Linked DNA regions of Homo sapiens. The protein of the gene in region 1 interacts with the protein of each later gene in a pairwise test. Each region holds a gene or a part of one and is shown on either strand. Other genes may lie near its edges.

The links.
Region 2: the proteins of PRDX4 (region 1) and LBP interact in binary tests that used the Homo sapiens proteins (3 or more experiments, as listed by UniProt).
Region 3: the proteins of PRDX4 (region 1) and TTF2 interact in a two-hybrid assay, tested with the Homo sapiens proteins (one study listed by BioGRID and IntAct).

Annotation. Positions count from the first base shown.
Region 1 is NC_000023.11:23,663,418-23,670,492, reverse strand, and holds the start of PRDX4 (peroxiredoxin-4 precursor), read right to left. Parts: upstream 3,001-7,075; 5' UTR 2,923-3,000; coding exon 2,682-2,922; intron 1-2,681. UniProt on the Homo sapiens protein: Thiol-specific peroxidase that catalyzes the reduction of hydrogen peroxide and organic hydroperoxides to water and alcohols, respectively.
Region 2 is NC_000020.11:38,342,190-38,349,481, forward strand, and holds the start of LBP (lipopolysaccharide-binding protein precursor), read left to right. Parts: upstream 1-4,292; 5' UTR 4,293-4,327; coding exon 4,328-4,451; intron 4,452-7,292. UniProt on the Homo sapiens protein: Plays a role in the innate immune response. Binds to the lipid A moiety of bacterial lipopolysaccharides (LPS), a glycolipid present in the outer membrane of all Gram-negative bacteria.
Region 3 is NC_000001.11:117,091,269-117,098,430, reverse strand, and holds part of TTF2 (transcription termination factor 2), read right to left. Parts: intron 7,104-7,162; coding exon 7,021-7,103; intron 6,615-7,020; coding exon 6,481-6,614; intron 5,701-6,480; coding exon 5,530-5,700; intron 3,789-5,529; exon of another isoform or gene 3,703-3,788; intron 3,123-3,702; coding exon 3,064-3,122; intron 2,283-3,063; coding exon 2,132-2,282; intron 1,081-2,131; coding exon 998-1,080; exon of another isoform or gene 226-997; coding exon of another isoform or gene 225-225; exon of another isoform or gene 193-224; intron 1-192. UniProt on the Homo sapiens protein: DsDNA-dependent ATPase which acts as a transcription termination factor by coupling ATP hydrolysis with removal of RNA polymerase II from the DNA template. May contribute to mitotic transcription repression. May also be involved in pre-mRNA splicing.

The DNA.
Region 1 (7,075 bases):
TCACTCCAAAATAGAGACAAACAACATGAATTTCTCTTAAAAATTAATATATAACATATGATTACTTATCTTGAGCCAGCATCCTACCTCATATATATAATCCTGATCTGATTAGGTAAAGGCCAGGAGGGAGAAATAGACAGCAGAAGAGTATTCAATTATATATACTTTAAATAAATTACTTAAAATGCTACTCAAGTGAGAGGTTATAATAATTGTAATGATCTATTACAATGACACGCCTTAATGATTTTAGCATACTGGGAAAACCATATTTGAAAAATAAATTTTGTTCTGAAAATTGATTTTGGAAATATTTGGTTAAGAATGGTAGTTACTTTGCTAAGATCTATAAATGGAATTCCCAAAGCAATCCCTTGCATTTATTAAAAAAACAAAAATTGTCTTGAATATAAATTATGTAATTAACATAAAGATTCTGGTAAATGCAGAGAAGTACAAAGAATACTTAAATCCTCTCTCTCCATAACTCCCATCAACTACTGTTAACATTCTGATGTCTGTCTTTCTAGTCTTATTTTTTTTAATTTTAGTTATTTACTTTTTTTTTTTTTGAGACAAGAGTCTCAGTCTGTCGCCCAGGCTGGAGTGCAGTGGTGTGATCTGGGCTCACTGCAACTTCCGCCTCCCGGGTTCAAGGGATTCTCTTGCCTCAGCCTGCCCAGTAGCTGGGATTACAGGTATGCGCCATCACACCCGGCTAATTTTTGTATTTTTAGTAGACACAGGGTTTCACCATGCTGGCCAGTCTGGTCTCGAACTCCCGACCTCAGGTGATCGGATGGCCTCGGCCTCCCAAAGTGCTGAAATTATAGACGTGAGCCACCACACCTGGCCTTTCCGTTCTTTTTTAAACACAAATTTGCCACGTGTTGCATCCCGCCTTTTTTTTCTCCTTAAAGGAAACAGTAAATTAATTATGAACAGTTTTTGATATTACTAAAAATTATTTGAAAATATGGCCTTAATGGCTCCATAATAGTCTTTACTAACAAAAGTCTTTGTATCTTTAATTATAGATAAGCCTACATGTGACAGAGAAATGTAGTAAACAACTAAAATGTTAAGTTTTGCTGGTAAAGGGAAAGCTTTGAAGTAGATTTGTTTCCTATGGAAAATATATGTAATGTAAGTAAACACTTAACTGGCTGACATATTTAAAATACTTTCCCAGGCAAGTAAAACCAGTGGGACTTGGAAATACTGATTTTAAAATTTAAGACTGGTTTTGTTAAAAATCTCAAAGTAGGCTGGGCACCGTGGCTCACGCCTGTAATCTCAGCACTTTGGGAGGCCAAGGCAGGCGGATCATGAGGTCAGGAGTTCCAGACCAGCCTGGCCAATATAGTGAAACCCCGTCTCTACTAAAAATACAAAAAATAGCCGGGTGTGGTGGTGCGCGCCTGTAGTCCCAGCTACCTGGGAGGCTGAGGCAGAAGAATCGCTTGAACCCGGGCGGCGGAGGTTGCAGTGAGCCGAGATCGCGCGACCGCACTCCAGCCTGGGTGCCTGGGTGACAGAGCAAGACTTCATCTCAAATAAAAAAAAAAAAAAAGTCCCAAAGTGGTTAACTGAAAGTACTTACTTTCAGCAAGTAAGAACTGTAAATGTTTAAGAGGACAAAACAGTTTTTCTCATTTATCACTCCCAACCAACCCATCCTAAGTCATAACAACATTCCATTTAACTCTAGGGATTCAGAATTTGAAGCATTACTTTTTTCACTGAATACTGGCATGGAACATGCTGTAACTGAACCATAAAAACCAACTACACACCTACAGAATGTCAAATGATCTGCAGGAAAAGCAGGTTACTGAATAGCAAGCAAGAGACAGCCTTTATCTATAGCCACTGTTCACTTTTGGTTAATTTTAACATCCAGATGTAGCAGGCTACAACTTTCACAGTATCTACTTCGTCTGACGTGTCATTCCTGAAAGTGGCCATTAGCTTTGTACACTGGACAGAAATGCAAATAATCAAAAACCAAATTGGCAGGACACAAATTTGCCACGAGGTTTATCATCAACCCAAATGCATACTTCTAACCTTTTCCCCCATTTCCCTCAAAAGTACACTCTGTAATAGGTTCTTCATGTCTGAGAAACATAAGGAATATCCATTAACTACACAGGCTTTGGGGAAGGTGGCTTTCAGTAATAATCTTTGTAAGATGCAAACAAAAAGGAAGAAAGAAAAATGAAATGTTTGACCTCCCGAGCACTGTGTTTAGCAACTTTTCTGTTTAATCAAACTTTTTGTGAATCATTATTCAACCTATCAATGTCTTCCTTCGCTGAAATAGTACCTGAAAAAGACAGGATGTGCTGAAGGCACTTTGAGATGTTTCAGGAACTGTTTCAGTTTGCCCAACATCCTCGATGCAAACTCGGGACTAGGGCCACCCACTTTCCCTCAGCTGCGGCTTTTGGGGTAACCACTACCTCTTCTAAAATCTGATCAGTGGAAACCATACCTTTCTTCACAGCTAGAACTCCCCTTTATTCCCCTCCCCGCCCTCCTAGGTGAGAACCAGGCCCGCCCAGGGCCCGGAGGCAGCCCAGGGGGTGCCGCCCAAGCCCAGATTCCGGGGGTGTAACCGGGGTACACGTGTCTCCGGAATCTCCCCTCCCACCCTTTGGCGGGACACCACCTACTCTTCGCTTTGCTTAGGTGCAGGGAGTGGTCGGCGACCGATACCCGGGATGCCTCTCCCGGGTACACTTGTCCACCCGCGTAGAAGTGGCACTCCTCTTCGCGAGTCCGGGGCCTCTCCTCTGTCTCCCAGCCCTGCACAGCTCCAGCCGGCAGCAGGAACAGCAGTAGCGGCAGCAGAAGCAGCCTTCGGTGGCGGCCGTGGTCCGGAGTTGTCGCGGCTAGCAGCGGCAGCGCCTCCATGACCACGCGAGCGCAGAAACACGTCCCTTGGCGCGAGCGCCGCTTCTGCCGCCGCCGGGCAGCTACAACCGCGTGCACGACGCCCGCGCGAACCGGGGCGCGGCCTCGCGAGACCAGCTCCTCCCCCTACCCCCCCTATCTGCTCCCCGCCCCGCCACGTGGGCGCCGGCCGCACCTCCCCCATCCCAAGCCTGCATTTGCGCCTGCGTCCCGCGGCTGACCAGGACCGGGAGCGTTGCCCAACTCTGTGAAGGCAGCGACAAGGTCTCCTGACCTCCGCGCTGTTTTAGACATCTTTCCACGTCCATCTCTTCCACAAAGCCTCACCACTGCACACAAGCCCCTCACAAGCGGAATCTAACCTATATGCTTGTGAATGGCTTGCATTTTATACTTCTAATAAGCTTTTTAAAAAGTCACTTAACGTTTTTAAAAATTATATTTACTTGACAAATCATAATTGTATACATTCGTGGGATGCAATGTGATTTTTTGAAATATGTATCCAATGTGGGATGATTACATCACATTAACTTATCCATCGCCTTGTTTACCTATGACTTTTATGGTGAGACATTTCAAATTTACTCTTATTCATTTTGAAATATACATTATTATTGACTGTATTTACCCTGCTGCTTACCAGAGGTTGGGAAGTAGGGAAGGCGAGGCGAGAGGGAAGGAATGGGGAGTTAGTTGTTGGTCAGAGGTTACCAAGTTCCAGATAGACAGGAATAAGTTTCAAGATCTAATAGACATTTACTAATTTTTTTTCTTGAAGTGATTTGTGTGAACGGGGCCATGATCTGCACTACTTGCAGCTCTTTTAAGTCCTGGAAAAACTTAGGGAGGGTAGGTCTAACCATTTACTTTCCTCCAGCATGCAAGGGCGTACAGGCAGTTTTTAGTGACCTAATCTATTGTTTCAAAGACAGCTTTTTTTTTTTTTAATTTAAATGAAGACTTGAAAAGTTACCAGAAAACTCTCCCAGCAGTGTTGTTCCTTTTTCTGACAATTACCCCATCACCCAACCCCTGGCCTTTTCCCTGCCCTCCCCACCCATCTCCCCGCCGTGGGCACCGCCCCGCTTGCCGCTGCAACCTGCCGTGTGCGTCTGCGCACTGGGGGCAGGCCCAGGCCACCGAGCGTCCACCAACTGGACTAAGACCACCTTGTGTCGTCACTTGTGACCGATCTTCTGCACTCCCACCCTCAGCACTGTTTTAGACCCTGTTCATCCTTCTGGGCCCATCTTGTACACAAAACTTCGCAGGTGACTGGCCTCGCGCCCTCAGCACTGTTGTAGGCCTTCTCATCCTTCACACCTATTTCTTCCACAAAGCTTCGCCCATGGCTGTCTTCCCACCATTGAAGTGCCAACGACCCTCGCCGCCAGCACTTGTTAGACATCCTTCCACGCCCATCTCTCCCAAAAAGCCTCCTCATCCCACGCCACCCCCGCCCCTCAAAGGGAAACTGACCTTTCTGCCTCTGAATAGCTCGCGTTTTATCCCTCTAACAGACATTTCTTATTCTTTTCCTTGCAGTGATCTTTGTGAACAGCCATGACTCCTCTCTCAAGTCGGAGCCCTTTTCAGGTCCCCAGAAAACTTGGAGAAGAAAAGTCTAACCTGAAAAGCCATATCCCTAGACCATTTCTTCTCTTCCAGCTGGAAAGGAACTATGGGGCAAACAGGCAATGTTGCAACTTAACCCTGTGTTAGGTTGTTTTTTTTTTTTTTTTTTTTTTTAGACAGAGTCTCGCTCTGTCGCACAGGCTGGAGTGCAGTGGCAATCTCGGCTCACTGCAACCTCCACCTCCCAGGTTCAAGTAATTCTCCTGCCTCGGCCTGCCGAGTAGCTGGGATTACAGGTGCGCGCCACCATGCCCAGCTAATTGTGATCCGCCCACCTTGGCCTCCCAAAGTGCTGGGATTACAGGCATGAGCCTGTATGATCCCAGGGTGCCCTCTGTCCTCCTGCAAGTGCTTGTTATCTTTCTTTTTAAATTAAAAAAAATTTTTTGTGGCTACATAGTAGGTATATGTATATATATATGTATATGTATATATATATATTTATGGGGTATATGGGATATTTTGATTCAGGCACACAGTGTGTAACAATCACATCATGGCAAATGGGTTATCCATCACCTCAAGCATTTATCATTTGTGTTACAAACAATCCAATTATACTCTTTTAGTTATTTTAGGGTATACAATTAAATTGTTATTGACTATAGTCACCCTGTTGTGCTATCAAATACTAGGTCTTATTCATTCTATATTTCTGTACCCACTAACCATCCCCACTTTCCTCCCCAGCCCCCCACTACCCTTCCCAGCCTCTAGTAACCATTCTTCTACTCTCTATCTCTATGAGTTCAATTGTTTTAATTTTTAGCTCCCACAATTAAGTGAGAACATGTTAAGTTTGTTTTCTGTAAGCACCTGTTATCTTTCTGAATCCTGCAGAAACCATCCTAAGTTTGTCTTTCCTCTACTAGACTGTGGGCTGTCTGGGGCTGAAATCAATGTGTAATAGGTCTTTGTTTCCCAAAGAACCTGGCCCACAGTAAGCAACTGACATTGCAAACACCTGATTTTATAAATAACACCTAATATTGCAGACAGCCTCAGTTTCAAGTTGCTTTCACATATTTTATCCTTACTCCTTGTGAAACAATCTTTTGTGGCAGATAGAAAATTTCCCCTTTCCAAACTCATCCCTCACCCTAGTTCTGCCCACTGTATACTCTGCTTTCTGCCTCCCGGCCCCTGCTTCCTGGAGGTAAAGGATGAAAAAGATGATGCCAGCCTCCTTCTGCTGAGGGAGGGTGTGTCCTTACCCATAACATTATCTGGCAGCTCTTCACTTTCTGGTGGCTCATAGATAGGAGGCCTCTGACGAGGTGGCTCTCGCTCCCAGTCTTCTCCTTCCCTGGCCTCCTGTTGCACGTGGAAGGGGAGTGGGACTCGGGGGGCTCGGGACTGAGTCCCAGGGATTCGGTTCAGGCCTGTGCCCCGTAGTCGGCTTCGGTGATCCATGGTGACTGTTGGACAAACAGCCACAAACCTCAGTGAATTCTAGGCCCAAAACTGGGCCTCTAAGTTTGGACCTGGGAAAGGAAGCTTGAGGAAAGCGTTATGTCCCTACACGTCTTTGCTCTGGGCTGAGCTGAGATGCCCTAGCTGGCAGCAGAGACTGCCCACCAAGTGGGCCCCTGTGGCCCACTGGAGAGAGTGACCAGATCGGCCAGCTCTCAGGCACCTACTGTTCGTCCCTCAGTTCTGTTGGAGCTCCCTGGCAACTGACATTCTGGGTGGCAGTTGCTCTGAATCCTTTCATCCAATGATATTTGTGCAGACATTGTGATATCACAGTGACATCAACAAGGAAGCTTGAGGTGGGGGCCCTGCCCTCAAGATACTTACCATCCAGCTGGAGTCAGTAGCCCATATTAATAATACAAAACCATCAGAGACAGGGGGCAGGTTCCAAATCCAGGATGCACCTCAGAAACACTTGGGGAGCTTAAAAACATTCTGTCTGGGCGCGGTGGCTCACGCCTGTAATCCTAACACTGTGGGAGGCCAAGAAAGGCGGATCACTAGAGGTCAGGAGTTCAAGACCACCCTGACCAACATGGTGAAACCCGGTCTCTACTAAAAATACAAAAATTAGCCGGGCGTGGTGGTGCACACCTGTAATCCCAGCTACTCAGGAGGCTGAGGCAGGAGAATTGATGGAGCCTGGAAGGCGGAGATTACAGTGAGCCAAGATTGCGTCACTGCACTCCAGCCTGGGCAACAGAGTGAGACTCCGTCTCAAACAAACAAAAAAACAAAACCAACCAACCAACCAACAAAACCATTCAAGTGCTGTGATTACAGGCCCAGAAGTGATGTTTCCTTCTTTTTTTTGAGATGGAGTCTCGCTGTGTTACCCAGGCTGGAGTGTAGTGGCATGATCTCAGCTTGCTGCAACCTCCGCCTACCGGGTTCAAGCAATTCTCCTACCTCGGTCTCCCGAGTAGGTGGGATTACAGGCACACACCACCATGCCTGGCTAATTTTTTGTATTTTTTTAGTAGAGATGGGGTTTCACTGTGCTGGCCAGGCTGGTCTCGAACTCCTGACCTCGTGATCC
Region 2 (7,292 bases), on another chromosome or scaffold:
GTGTGGGCACCGTCATAGAAAACTATCGAAAAGGAGAGTGAAGCATTAGAGAACTGCTGAGCTTGGAGGGAACTCGGAGCTCATTTAGTCCCTTGTTCCCGAAGCTCCAAGCACAATCCGTGGTCAGCAGCATCACCCTCACCAGGGAGCTTGTTAAAATGCAGAGGCTCAGCCCCAAGAGGAACATGATGGATCAAGATTTGCATCTAAACAAGATCCCTGGGGGACTTGACTGCACGTCTTTGTTTCTGAAAAGCTGTCCTAGTCCCCAGCCCTCATCTGCATTTGGGGGAAACATGAGGAACAGAGAGGGGTGGAGTTTGTTCCAGGTCCCCCAGCCCATTAGGAGCAGGGCCTTGACAAAAAACCTGTAAGACTTTGGAAAAGGATTCAAAGCTCTCTGCGAGAGGCAGGCGTTTGCACAAAAGATGAATAAGTGCAGAAGAAATGCTCAGTGTTGCTAATTGTGTCCAACAGGGTTCAGGCAAGAAAAGAGAATCCAACTGCATTGGTTCTTGGGATTTGAATAAAGTGGCTATTTCTAGAGTTGGGGGACAAGCTTGAGGAAACCAACCAGGGACTGTTTTTCCTAAGGCTCAAGCAGCAAAGAAAAGCATCTGGGTATCCCAGCCCAAGGAGATAATAGGAGCCAAGGACAAGGCCTTATCAGGAGGGACACAGCCAACTGCCACACTTGTGATCTAGAGAAGACAGCAGGGAAAAGTGCCCTGACATCTGACCTCCTGCCATGCCACCCTCTGGCTGAACCCAAGTAGAGATGAGGAAACTGAGTCACAAAGTGCCCAAAGTCACCCCGTGGGGGAGTCAGGATTCAAATCCAGGCCATCTGGCCCCAGAGTCCATAAAGATAAACATAAGGTTTGTTTATTCCTTTGGCAATTATCTACTATTTGCTGCTCAGTATTCTAGACACTATGGATTCCAAATTCTGGGTTTTTCAAAATCTTTTCAGTAACACTTTTGTAGTGAGAATATTATCGGTGGCGAGTCCGCAACACTCCCAGCCCTTGTCTTCTCAGAGGAAAGAATTCAATTGAGAGACGCAGGCAAGTTTTAAAGCAGAGGCAAAGGTTTATTGAAAGAAGCAAAGTACAACTGAGAGATCAAGTGCCCCGCTCAACCTTTGGCTCGGGGCTTTTATACACTGGCTTGGTTCTGGGGTTTCTTCTCCTCCTTGATTCCTCCCTTCGGTGGGCTGCTGCGCCCTCCCTGCATGCGCAATGGCCTGCCAGCACTTGGGAGGGGCCGCATGCGCAGTGTGTTTACTAAGGTTGTGCGCATGCTCACTTGGGGTGATTTTCCCTTACTGGTCCGTCGCCGCAAGAAAAAGGTCATATACAAGTCAGACTCCAACATTTGCCCTTCTGCTCGACCTTACCAGGGAATTGTGGTTTGCTGGCTCCAGATGATGTCAACTATCTGTTAGGGAACTCCTCTCCCTCTTGGCGCCATTCGTGGCCACTTATCATGTCAGAGGGACAGTTTTATGATCGCCTGTCCATCATTTGATGCACTGCCATTTCTGGGGGCCCTCTCCTGCACAAGAACACAATAAACAGCCTTGTTAAAAGAGTCCCTATTTCACTGCAATAAGACTGAGTGGTGGCCAGAGTGGTAGCAGCTGTTGCTTTTGTGGAATTGGATGGACAGCCTGGTAGGAGAAAGGCCCAGGGGTTCTGACCAGCAGTGGGGTCGTGCTGCTCCCTGAGGCCTCTGCTGGGTCCTGGGCCATCAGCAGGGACCTTAGCCAGCAGTGGGCACCTGCAGGGGTGGAGGCCAGGCCTGGGCCATGTGGCAGCTCTAAGGTCCAAAGATTGCTGCTGTGGGAAATTCCCACCCCTGCAAATGACTCCCAGCCAGGGACATCCTTAAACTGCTGCCAGAGGAAGAGTGACATCTATGTCCCCATAAGATCCTTATGCTCCAGAATGTCCTCCCCCACTCTCCTCCCCTCCTGGGCAGGCTGAGGTCCAGGAAGCAAAGGCCCCTAGGCACACTGGGGATGCACCTGTGAGCCCTTTCCTGCTCCAAAGCCTCCCAAAGGCTGGCTCCTTACCCTGAGGCCTCTGCTCAGCTTGTTGCCTCCCAAGAGAACCCTGCCCTGACCAGAGTTTTGGAATGGCATCCTGCAGACCTGGACTTAAATTCCTGCTGGGTGACTGCAGCCTACATCACTTCACCCTGCCAAACCTCAGTTTCTTCATCTCAAGACAAGACTAAAATATCCACCTGGGGTTGCTGATGCAAGGATGAGAGGAGACGTGCAGCTTAACCAGCACAGCGCCTGCACATAGTAGGTGCTCAATAAATATCAGTTTCTTTCCAATTTCTGCTGGGTGCTGCAAGGATCTCAGGAAATGGAAGACTCAGCCGTGCCTGCAAGGAGCCATCAGACTGGTGGTGTGGGGACTGAGGGGAGGGACGGATGAGGATCCCAACAAACCTCAGCCCCAGTGACAGGAGCAACACGGTACAGAGGAGCAGAGAGGCCTGGACTGTGGGGTTCCCTGTGCTTAACGTGGGACATTCTGATCTTAACCTCAGTGCCTGCCAGTGCTGTTTGTGACCTATTGGGAGTCACCCTGTTAATCCCACCACATTCAGTTGGTTGAGGCCATCATGAAAACCTGCCCAATTTCAAGGGAAGGGGGCAGAAACATTACCTTTTGATGGAAGGAATATCAAAGAATTCGTGGGCATATTTTTAAAGGACCACAATTATCAAAAAGCAGAGTGGTTAATGCTGTGGTGGGGAAAGCGCAAAGGGTTCTGGGACCTCAGAGGGGACCCTTTCTAGAATCCAGAGAAGCATGGGAGTGGTCAGGGAAGGCTTCCTGGGGGTGAGGGCAAAGCAGAACTCACAAATGTAAGCAGGGCTGGGGCAAAACTCTAAAAATTAAACACAGTCTGTACTATAAATTTTGTTTTCCAGAATGAAATTTTACTATCTTTACTTACTGCGAATATATGCCCGGGACCATACCCCCAAGAAAATAAAAATTTTAGAGGCTGGGCATGGTGGCCCAAGTCTATAATCCCAGTATTTTGGAAGGCCAAGCGGGAGGCTTACTTGAGCTCAGGAGTTCGACACCAGCCTGGGCAACATAGCAAGACCTCGTCCCTACTAAAATACAAAAAATTAGCTGGACATGGTGGCTCACACCTGTAGTCCCAGCTACTTAGGGGGCTGTGGTGGGAGGATCACTTGAGCCCAGGAAGTTGAGGTTGCAGCGAGCGATGTTCATGCCACTGGACTCCTGCTTGAGCAACAGAGTAGACTTTGTCTCAAAAAATGAAAAAAGAAAAAAAAATTGTACGTATCAACAAGCAAAAACTTTTTTAACACTTATAATTCTACCCCCACAACCAGAGACAATGCCTCATGACTCCTTGCTAAATATTTTCCAGATTGTTGAACATAGAAGCCTATTTTGAACCCCCCAAAATAGAACCTTACTCTATGGTGCCATCGGAAACGGATGCCTCATGACATCCCTTTCCTTGCCAAGAAATACCTTTATTTCTGCAGCCTCACTTTAAGGGGCATGTCATAATTCATTTAACCAATGCCCTTCTGGTGGATACATGAGGTTGGGTCTCACTTCTCCTGTCCTGTTTCCCACAGCATAGCAGTGGTATCTTGGAGCAGTGATTTACTGGCACACTGACTCAATTATGTATTTAAGGGCAAGTCCCTGAAATTGAATTCCTGGGTCACAGGGCATGCAACTGTTTAAACATTTGCCAATTGCCTTCCAGAAAATTTCACCACCAGCAAGGTTTGAGAAACACTGTTTTCCCATTGGGGGAAACATTTATTTTTTAAATAAACGAGCCAATATATTTTAAAAAAGAGAGTTTGGTTGGTGCCAGATGTAGCTTCACTCTCAACCCTGCCCTCTGCTGGGGGTGAGATCTCAAGGGAGCTATGTGGCTTTTTTGAACCTCAGTTTCCTCATCTGCTAAACCAGGCCTTCCTAGCCGAGCTCTTAAGAGACTGGCTGAGATGAGGCAAGATGAACAGTGATGAATATGGGGTCTTTCTGTGGGGAGGGTGGACAGGGATGATCATAGGAGTCAGGCTTCCTCATCCACTGATCTGGGCAGTGAAAACTGGCTTCTAAGTATGACCTTATGACTTCAGTGATGTCGCAAGCAGGTTCCAGTCCCTGTGCCTCCCCTTCCCGCTCCCAGGAACCCATCCAGCCTCAGGAACTGCCCCCAGCCATCGAGCCTTGGCTACTTAAGGGACCTGGGCCCAATCCACAGCTGGGACAGTCCTGGCCCACTGCACTGGGAATCTAGGATGGGGGCCTTGGCCAGAGCCCTGCCGTCCATACTGCTGGCATTGCTGCTTACGTCCACCCCAGAGGCTCTGGGTGCCAACCCCGGCTTGGTCGCCAGGATCACCGACAAGGGACTGCAGTATGGTAAGAAGCCACATCTGCTGGCTGGACTTGGCAAACCCACGCTCCAGGCTGCTCTGGGTACAGTGGGGACAGGGAGTGGGGACACAGACCGGACCCTCTCCCTGGGGCAGTGCCACCTTCTGGGTCAGGTGGCTCTGGCTCCTATTCTGGCCTTACTGCCCACCAGCTGAGTGCCCTGGGCATGTTATTTGTGGTAGTGAGGTCCTCCACCAGCCAACAGAACACAGCTTTGCGTGCAAGTAGTTGATTTGGGAAATGATTCCAGGAAACACTGTAGGGAATCGGTACTGAGATGAGGAAGGGAGGGCAGCCAGGAGAGAGTGTGCAATTAAACCAGCCACCACCTCTGATGATGGGAACCACTCAGCTGGGAAAATTCTGCGTAAAGTTTGGAAACACATGCCTCTGAACTGGAAGTCAGAATTGTGGTCACCTCTAGAGGCAGGCAGAGACCCTGAAGGGCATGAGGGAGGTCTGCCGGGGTGCTGGAAGTTGCCATATCTTGATCCAGGTGGTGATCACATTCCTGTATAAACATTAAAAATTATTTAGCAATACCTTTAAAATTTGTGCCCGTTAGGTACTTTATGTATATTATTCCTCAATTTTAAAGAATGGGCAGGCCAGGCACAGTGGCTCACGCCTGTAATCCCAGCACTTTGGGAGGCCGAGGTGGGTGGATAGCTTCAGGCCAGGAGTTCGAGGCAAGCCTGGCCAACATGGTGAAGCCTCGCCTCTCCTAAAAATACAAAAATTAGCCAGTCTTGGTGGCAGCCAACTGTAATCCCAGCTACTTGGGAGGCTGAGGCAGGAGAATCGCTTGAACCCGGGAGGCAGAGGTTGCAGTGAGCCGAGATCATGCTGCTGCATTGCAGCCTGGGCAACAGAGGGAGACTGTCTCAAAAAAATAAATAAAAATAAAACAAAGAATGAGCAAAAGTAGGAGTATTTTTTTTTAAATACTGAAACAAAGCCTCCCGACTATCCAGGTGGCATGGGAACTGGGATATTTATACACCACAGTGATTGATTGAGGGCTTCTGGGCCGGGGGTTTGTCAACTCCCCAGCACTTCTGTCCTGTTGCATGTACCTGCTTTCTGCAGTTCCAGGACAAAAAGCCTCGGGACATACAGGCTCAGGGAGGCAGACATTGGCAGCTGGGAGTCAACTGTCACTCACTGGAAAGACTCAAGGATATGGACAGGCACTGACCACATGTCTTCTCACATCCCTAGAGCCTCAATTGCCTTACCTATTAAATGAGATAACAACATTCCCTTAGATAGGGTTGTTGGGAGCCCAGACTGGCTCGAGACAGGCAGAGGGAAATCAGGGAAGGATTCCAGGATATAGTAAAATGGAAAAGACAGTGGGAATTACCCAGGGACAAGGGGTAGCGTTCCAGGCGGAAGGACCCCAACATGTGCGTTTGCTAGAGGGAGAAGAGCAAATTGGAAAGAGGTGAAAGGGGAGGCTGCTGGTCATCTGTGTACCCATGTCTGCCTTGGGGACAGAAACCTGGGCCCCTCAGATCTCGGAACAGTGGGACCTGGTAACTGCTACTTGCATTGAAACTGTAAATCAGGGAAGTTTCTCTTTTGTTCCTTTGCACTGTGCACACACACCATGTTTATGTAACCAGTCCTCTGAGGTTGGACATTTTGGTCCTTTCCATATTTTTTTTTTTTTTGAAACGGAGTCTCACTCTGTTGCCAGGCTGGAGTGCAATGGCACAATCTCAGCTCACTGCAACCTCCGACTCCCTGGTTCAAGTGATTCTCCTGCCTCAGCCTCCCGAGTAGCTGGGATTACAGGCACATGCTACCACGCCCAGCTAATTTTTGTATTTTTAGTAGAGACAGGATTTCACTATGTTGGCCAGGATGGTCTCGATGATCCACCCGCCTCGGCCTCCCAAAGTGCTGGGATTACAGGCGTGAGCCACTGCGCCCGACCCCTTTCCATATTTTTAATAATATAAACCCTATTTGCTGTTCCAGGCATTTACTGAGTGCCTGCTGTGTGTCAGGCACCAAGCTAGGAGTGCTTGTTATCCTCACAGCCCCCTTCTTGCTTTGCAGTTTCAATGGCATGCCAATGAGGAAAGTTTAGTTTAGTTTAGTTTAGTTTAGTTTAGTTTAGTTTAGTTTTGTTTTGTTTTGTTTTGTTTGAGACAGAGTCTCACTCTGTCGCCCAGGCTAGAGTGCGGTAGTGCGATCTCGGCTCACTGCAATCTCTGCCTCCCGGGTTCAAGTGATTCTCCTGCCTCAGCCTCCTGAGTAGCTGAGACTACAGGTGCCTGCCACCATGCCCGGCTAATTTTTGTATTTTTTAGCAGAGATGAAGTTTCACCATATTGGCCAGGCTGGTCTCGAACTCCTGACCTCAGGTGATCTGCCCTCCTCGGCCTCCCAAAGTGCTGGGATTACAGGCGTGAGCCACCACGCCCAGCAAATGTATTGTTGTCATTGCTATTTGACAGATGAACAAAGTGAAGGTTGTTTGGGGACTTTGTCAAAGTCACCCAGCTAGAAAGATGCCCTCTTTCTCTAGCCCCCAGATCCTTCCAGTTTCTTCTACACAGGCCAGATGTCATGGAGAACAAGAAGGAGGACTATCCGTCCAAGCGCACAGCACTTTTGCCCTTGGGGATTTGTTGGCAAAGGCATTCCATTTCCTCATCAGTAAAATGGGCATGAACCTAACAATGCCACAGAAATGCAGGGACACCTCTGAATGTCCCTCATGCTACCTGGCACACAGAGGGGCTCATATCCTGTCATTGTACTTAATGCTAATAAGGATGTTGGCCCCTCTCTTGAGGACAGGTGGGAGCCACC
Region 3 (7,162 bases), on another chromosome or scaffold:
ATGTCCTTGGGCAAGTTATTTAACCTCAGTCCTCTAGGCTTCAGATTGCTACTTGGAAATTGAAGGGCCAGCTAATGATCTTGACTAGCTGCCTTTTTCAACTTGAATATTCTGTGATTCGATTAAGGAGACTTAATTTGTTTCCTTCTTTATTGATTCCCATTGTAACTCCAAATTAGTTTCTCATCTTACCTCTTTAAAATCTTGGATAACATTTCTCTATCTCTGAAAAAAAAAAAAAAGCATGATTCCTAGTATGCTTTCCTCACTCACGTGTACAGAGGAGTCCCAAGTAAGAACTAAACCCGTTCTCCTGGAAGATGATAACAGGTTGACCTATTTGTACCCATCTGGGCTGTCTGGAGAATTGGACCAATGACAATCCCCAGCAGCAATCCTTGATTGGCATAACTGGAAAACCAGAAACTGGTACTCATTATGAGATTTTCTGTTAGCAACACACTAACTCATTCATTCTGTAGCCACGAAAGATGTGGTTGTACTCCTGGTATTAACACTACATACAATGAATCCAAGGGTGAGGTATTAAGTGTATTTCTAACATAATTAGAAAATCCCTATTCCTTTTCTTTTTGGAGTAATGCTTCTCCCTCTTTTCAAAGGTTGAAATTTCCTTGGACCCCAACAAGTGTGTCTGGAATACAGTATTCTGGAGAAGAGGTAAAACTGAGCAAGGTTAACTCTTAGCCATGAGGAAAAGCTATGCTCCCCGTTTCCATGGAAACAGATGTTAGACTAACAATAACGTGAATGAACTATTTTGAGTAGTCATTTGAAGGCTTGCTAGCTCAGGAATTCAGGGGAGTCAGCTAGCCCTATACCCTGCTTAGATCTGTATCTATAGACACATACAAAGCAAGGCATCTCTGCAATACGAACACAGCAATCAACATAAGAAGTCAGTTCTTGCTGCCCCTGTAGCCCACTGGCCTCCTTGATGTGCTGTGACAACCCAGGACAAATCCGGAATCATTACCAGTGCATGTCCAAAAGAAAGAGGTGATTTCCTCCAGTCAGGTTTAGACCAACACCTCCGGCCAAGAGAGAGATTAGCATTACCTTCAAAAGGAAACACAACATTAACTTTAAACAGACTTGGTCTCGTAACACATCTCGGTCTCAGGTTTAAGTCCACAATCAATACAGATAAGCACTGTGTTCCTATCAAATTTCCTTCTGCTGTTATAAATTGTTTTTTTTTTTAACATTATAATGCTATCTCCCATGTCTCACTTTTGAGAAAATTCTCACATCACATTTTGTGTGTGTGTGAGTCAACCTCAAAAAATTAACTGAGTGCTTGCCAAAATATATAAATACTGTAATTTAGAACCCTGGGGATGGTCAGCTCAATAAACTTTCAATTAACCAGATTATGTTTATTTCATCAGTCCCTACCCCTCCATTGCTACAATAATTCTCCTGCCTATCATTCTACTAATGCTTTCCAAATCTTTATTATCTATAATTAGATGCCTGTGTTCTTTCATTTCCTTCCATATTTCCTCATACCAAAACCCCACCTATCCTTCAAAGCTTGCCTCCTCTGCAAAGATTCCCCTCAACCTAACCAGCTCTGCTGTTAATCTCCTTTTAGTCCTCATATTTGATTCTTTTTAGAATATTTGTGCTCTTTAAAAGTATCCCAATACATGTCTAATAAATTCTAAACACTCGGAGGAATCAAGGCTGTAAATATTTTTAAGTTGCCATATCAGAATTCTCTTTATATGGCTGGGCACGGTGGCTTACGCCTGTAACCCCAGCACTTTGGGAGGCCAAGGCAGGTGGATCACCTGAGGTCAGGAGTTCAAGACCAGCCTGGCCAACATGGTGAAACCTCATCTCTACTGAAAATACAAAAATTAGCCAAGCTTGGTGGCAGGAGCCTGTAATCCCAGCTACTTGAAAGGCTGAGGCAGGAGAATCGCTTGAACCCGGGAGGCGGAGGTTGCGGTGAGCCAAGATAGCACTATTGCAGTCCAGCCTGGGCAACAAGAGCAAAACTCCGTCTCAAAAAGACAAAAACAAAAACCAACCAAACAAAAAGAATTCTCTTTGTATAACTCAGAACAGTTAATTATGCGGCTCTGATGTGACCAGCTTGTACCTGAGGGCCTCTGGAGTGGTTAAATGCCTCTACCAAGTCCATTCTCTGCTTGGGATTGACAGAGCCATCGATGGTGGCATAAGTCAGTCCATGCTTCTTCAGGTGCAATGCTACAACTTTCAGCATGTTGGTCCACTGAGAGACAATGACACTGGAAAGAAGAATAAAATAAAAAAATACCCTAACATAGATTAAACAGACTCATCTGCAGGGCTTTAATGCCCTCATCATTCTTAAGGTTAGCTATCAAATGTTGACAAGGAAAGGCCTTCTGCTACCTAAGGGAGAAGGCACACATTTAGGTCATATCTGAAGATTATAATGCTTCCAGTTATTTCTAGGTCCTTTCTACAATTTATTTAGTGCTAAATGAAGTCAGAAAAAAATGGTAGCTAGAGTAAAGTGATGACTCCAGCCTTCTTTCATTTGGGGTCCTAGTGCTCATCCAGAAATCTGTGGTCCTGCACAAAAGGGACACACTGACCACCCTTCTTGTGCCAGCCAGAACAACAGGCTCCTCCCTGCCCCCACGCTGTCTTAATTCGAGTTCTAAATTTTTATATTGAATTATTTTATAAATAATGCAGGTGTATAGCACATATGTCAGGTATAACAAATGAGTCCTTGTATCCAAGTACTCAGCTTAAGAACGTTATCAGCACTGCTGGAGCCTCCTCACTCGCTTGCTTTTCTTTATATGCTTCTCTACTTTTAAACACTTTTTCAGATGCTTCGCTTACCCTGATCCTCTAGGGATCTCCTTTTCAATTTGTACCACAAATATTTTAATTAGAAATCACAGGGAATGTGTGCTATAACCTCAGTGCTTTCTGCTGAGCATGACTCACAGTCCTTGATTTATAACTCTTGGCAATATCAAATTTTCTCACATAATTATGACCAATACTTGGATAATGAGAAAACGCAGTTACCTCTTTTGGGATGCTGAATTTCTTTGAATTGCCTCCAATTCTGCCAACAGAGATGAAATCTGGGAAAAGGTTACATCAACATTGTATGTTTAAGCAATTCACTTTTCTCCATCTCCCCTCACCTGCCATGCGAAGCAGCCTCCTACATGGCGTCTGTGCTCTGGCCTCACCTGTCTTTATTCCACCCTCCTCTCTGCAGCCAGAAAGCTCTTTCTAAAATGTGAGTTTGTCACTTCACCCCTCTGGCTAAAGCCCTTCCATAGCTTCCCACTGAGGATAAAGGCCAAGCTCCTCAAGGCAGCTTGCCGGATTCTTGCTGCTCCAGCCTCTGCTTCTCTGGGTTCGTTTCTCACCATGCCCTCCTCAAACGACACAGCAAGCACACCAAAATTCTTCCCATAAATCACACACTGGCCATCTTGTCCATTCTGCTCCCTCTGCCTAGAACACCCTTTTGTGTCAGCTTAATGTCACTTCTTCTTGGAGGTCCTCCCAACCCCCAAAGTACAGGTTAGGTGCCCACTGCCCAAGTACTATCATAGCACCTTTTGTTTCTATTATCACGGTCCTTGTCATACTGTATATTAATTGCTTATTATCTCTTGCTTCCAGGACTTGAGACACTCCAAGGAGGCAAATATTAGGAAAGTAACTTCTCTGTTTCGGCCATGTGTGAGGGGCTGTGAGTACACACATGGCCAAAACAGAGAAGATACTCTCCTAATGTTTGCTGAAGAAGAAAGTGAAAGAGCTTTACCCACTTTATGGCCTGCTCCAAATGTTGTTGAAAAGGACCTGTCCAGACGGAGGAACCATTGTTAAAGCTTCCGAACAGGCTCCCTGGGTATTCCCCAAGAACCCTTAGGGTGCACTTGAGTCCACAGGGGAGCTGTCAGTAAGAACACGTGGGGCATGACTTTGGAGTGCAGCTGGGCTCATTCTTCCCAGCTGCTCATGTGAAAAACCTTTCAAGAGCCTCTAAGGGCCCCAGAGTTCACCCCCAGAATGCTGGAGAAGGAAGAAAACTGGGCTGTAAGTCAATCAGGAGACAAATATACAGAAGTTCTTCCTCTGTCCTCATATGGCTGGACCACTTTGGGACTCAGATTCCTCATCAGTGAAAAGAAGGACTTAGGCCAGATAAATTCTGAGGTGCCCTGAGCTCCCACATTCTAGGATGTCATTACAGTGGTCACCACATGGGGCTGCTTTCCAATCTTAACAAACATTCTGGTGCCTAGGCAGGAAGTGAGTCACAGAACTGTACCATTCAAATTAGCAGACAGAAAAGCAGCTACATCTGTTATTTAGTTAACAATAGAACAGAGACACTGATGTGCCTGGTGTCTTGGCAACTTGAGATTGTGGAAGGCGCTGTGACTCCCACATGAAAAAGCTAGCCATGGTGTTTTGAGAAAACTGCAGCAGGAGGGCTGGATTTATGGCCCACGAGCCGGGGTCAAATTCCAGTAAGAAGCCTCCTTCCCTACTTGAAACAACCGTATGTGGTTTGAACTATTAATGGACATATGTTAAGAAAACTTGTGAATAAATATTACCTGCATTTAATTAAACAAGGAACACAAATGATTAGGAATTTAAATTTTAGCCCAATAGCTCACTCTGAAGGCACTAGCATGTGTGTTCTGGCCACATGGGATGCTCTTCTTATGTTTCTCTCAGCTATCAGTGGTAAAGACCTAGGTAAATGTTTTCAAATTTTAATTAAAAGGCAGCATTCCTTTTAAAAAATAATGCCATTCCCCTGGAAGTGACCTTTCTAGTTATTAATACACTTTTTCAAAAAAAGCCTTTGAAGAGAGGTTGAGCCCAAGAACGGCAGCTTGAGATGCTAAGAGAGAAACAAGCCTCACTTTCAAGACAGGCAGGATGATGAAGCACATTCCGAGCCAGCAGACAGGCAGGATTCAGGTTACGGCATATCTAAGCCTTCCTCCAGCAGAATGTTTCTGCCTTAAAAAGCTCTGACGAAAACAGAGCAGAATGACTAATGAAGACAGAAGGCTATGTAGGAAACACTACTCACATGTGGAAGCCTTTCAAAGTCAGAGCAATTGGCGCTCGCATGTATGACACAGTCTCTAGAGTCAAGCCTTTGTTTTCCTTTTAAGCTTTCTCTAAACAAATTGCTCACTTGCATAGGCCCCGTCCCTAGCACAAACCTGGCAAGCTCCCCAGTGACCCATGACAGAAAACCCACTTCAGTGCAATGCTGGGGTTGTCCCAAATTACTCTCTCAAAGTCCCCTATGTAGTAAGGCTTTAGTGTTATCTGTGAAATAAATGAAGCTTTAAGACTGGAGGGAGAATCTGATCAGCTAGAATTTAACGGCTCTAGCTCTGCTGGCAAATGGCTGTTCCCACTTGGACAAATGAAGTGCTGTCACACAGGAAAATGTGTGAGGAATCGAAGTCTCTCGACTACTACAGAGGAGACAAAAAGTACCTTGGTGCTCTCTCGCATGCCTTCAAAAAGCTCCATCTTGAAGAAGGTGCCGTTAAGGGAAACAGTGGAAGATGGCTCTGAGTCACGGAGTTCTGACAAGGTCAAAGCACTGAGCTGTTCTTCCAGGGAAAGGACAAGACCTTCACCCTTCAGTTCCATTGGATCCAGGGCCTGAACAGACAAAAAAGGACAGGAGCAGCTGGGAGTCAAGGGAGCAAACCTTGTTACTTGTTGATGATGTTTTGATTGTTTACCACTTCACAGAGCAAAATATCTTGTAATTTGTCATCAGTAACTCCTCAAGACACCTTGATTAAAGTGTGATCTTGCAAGTTTTTTCACCACATTAAAGATAAACCAAATGATGGAACTTTTTAAAGACTTGCCAGGCAGATGACATAATCATTCTATTTTTTCCAAGCTAGAATATAATTGAGATGTTGATAATCAGAATACATTATTACAGCTCCTTAAATGAATAGAATACTCCTCTTAATTTTGGATGTGCCTCTATCCAAGGTAGGGGCAACTTTTCAGTCTGTATAACTATCTGAGTTTTTATAACTGGAACCCAAAACCCCAAAACTGCCTGAAAGCAGAAAACCCCAAGAACTAAATTAGCTTTATGACATTCTGAAGTACCAGAGCATTCACAAATGGCTTCTTTTTAAACAAAATATCATTTTCTTTTCTTAAACAGTTAATCTAAAACAAAATAAACAATAGAAATACACTATTCTTGATGCCATAGGAATTATCAAGATTAATATGAAATAAAGCAAAATAAATAAGCCCCCTTTTCTCCAACCCACCAAAAAACAAAAATAGAAAAACCGAAACAGCATTTCCTTTGATCAAGCAGACTGGATTCCAGTTGGAGGAGAGTGAAATTGACTTCTCAGGTGGCCCCTCTGGAGCACTATATGACAGCAGGCTGAGGGCTTTTCTTACCGACTTCAGTAAAGAAAGATGACAGCAACACTGGCGGAGTCTCAGCAACTGGGACAGTATGTGGACGGTGCTGGATCTCGGTGAGTCTGCTGCCTCCGAGTGTCTAGGCTCCTCAGACCCAAACTCCAGTGCCACTTCCAAGAGGGAAGACAAGCCACAGGATGGTACAGGATTTAAAAGAGAAATACGGAGAGAGCCAGGAACTACATGGGGCTACTTTAACCATGTTTGATCTCAGACTCAATAATATAGTTACAACTCACTTCTATAGGCCACTTCAATTAGGCCAAATGAAATATCGGTTTTTCCTTATAGAACTACCTGCATTTTAATAAAGCAGATTTAGGAAACAATTAAAAAGAAGCTAAATAAACACCAGATCTCGTGTTTGCAATCAGTAGATTTTACTCTGGTTTGAGGGTCTTAGTTAACGCCAAATCTCTGATACCAAGGATTCATAACCTCACATTTCTGTGTTTTACTGAATCCAAATCCCCATTTTCACCAGTCATATGTATTTATGAGAGTCCTACAGCTTACCTCTACTGAATGGATTATTAGGGCTTCTTCCAGATTGGTTGCCTCTACTTTCATGTCTTTTTAGATAGGATTGCAGAGCTGACCTGCCTCAGATTAAAAAGAAAAAAAATGCATGTATAATGGTCACTAAGACCTGCTTAAC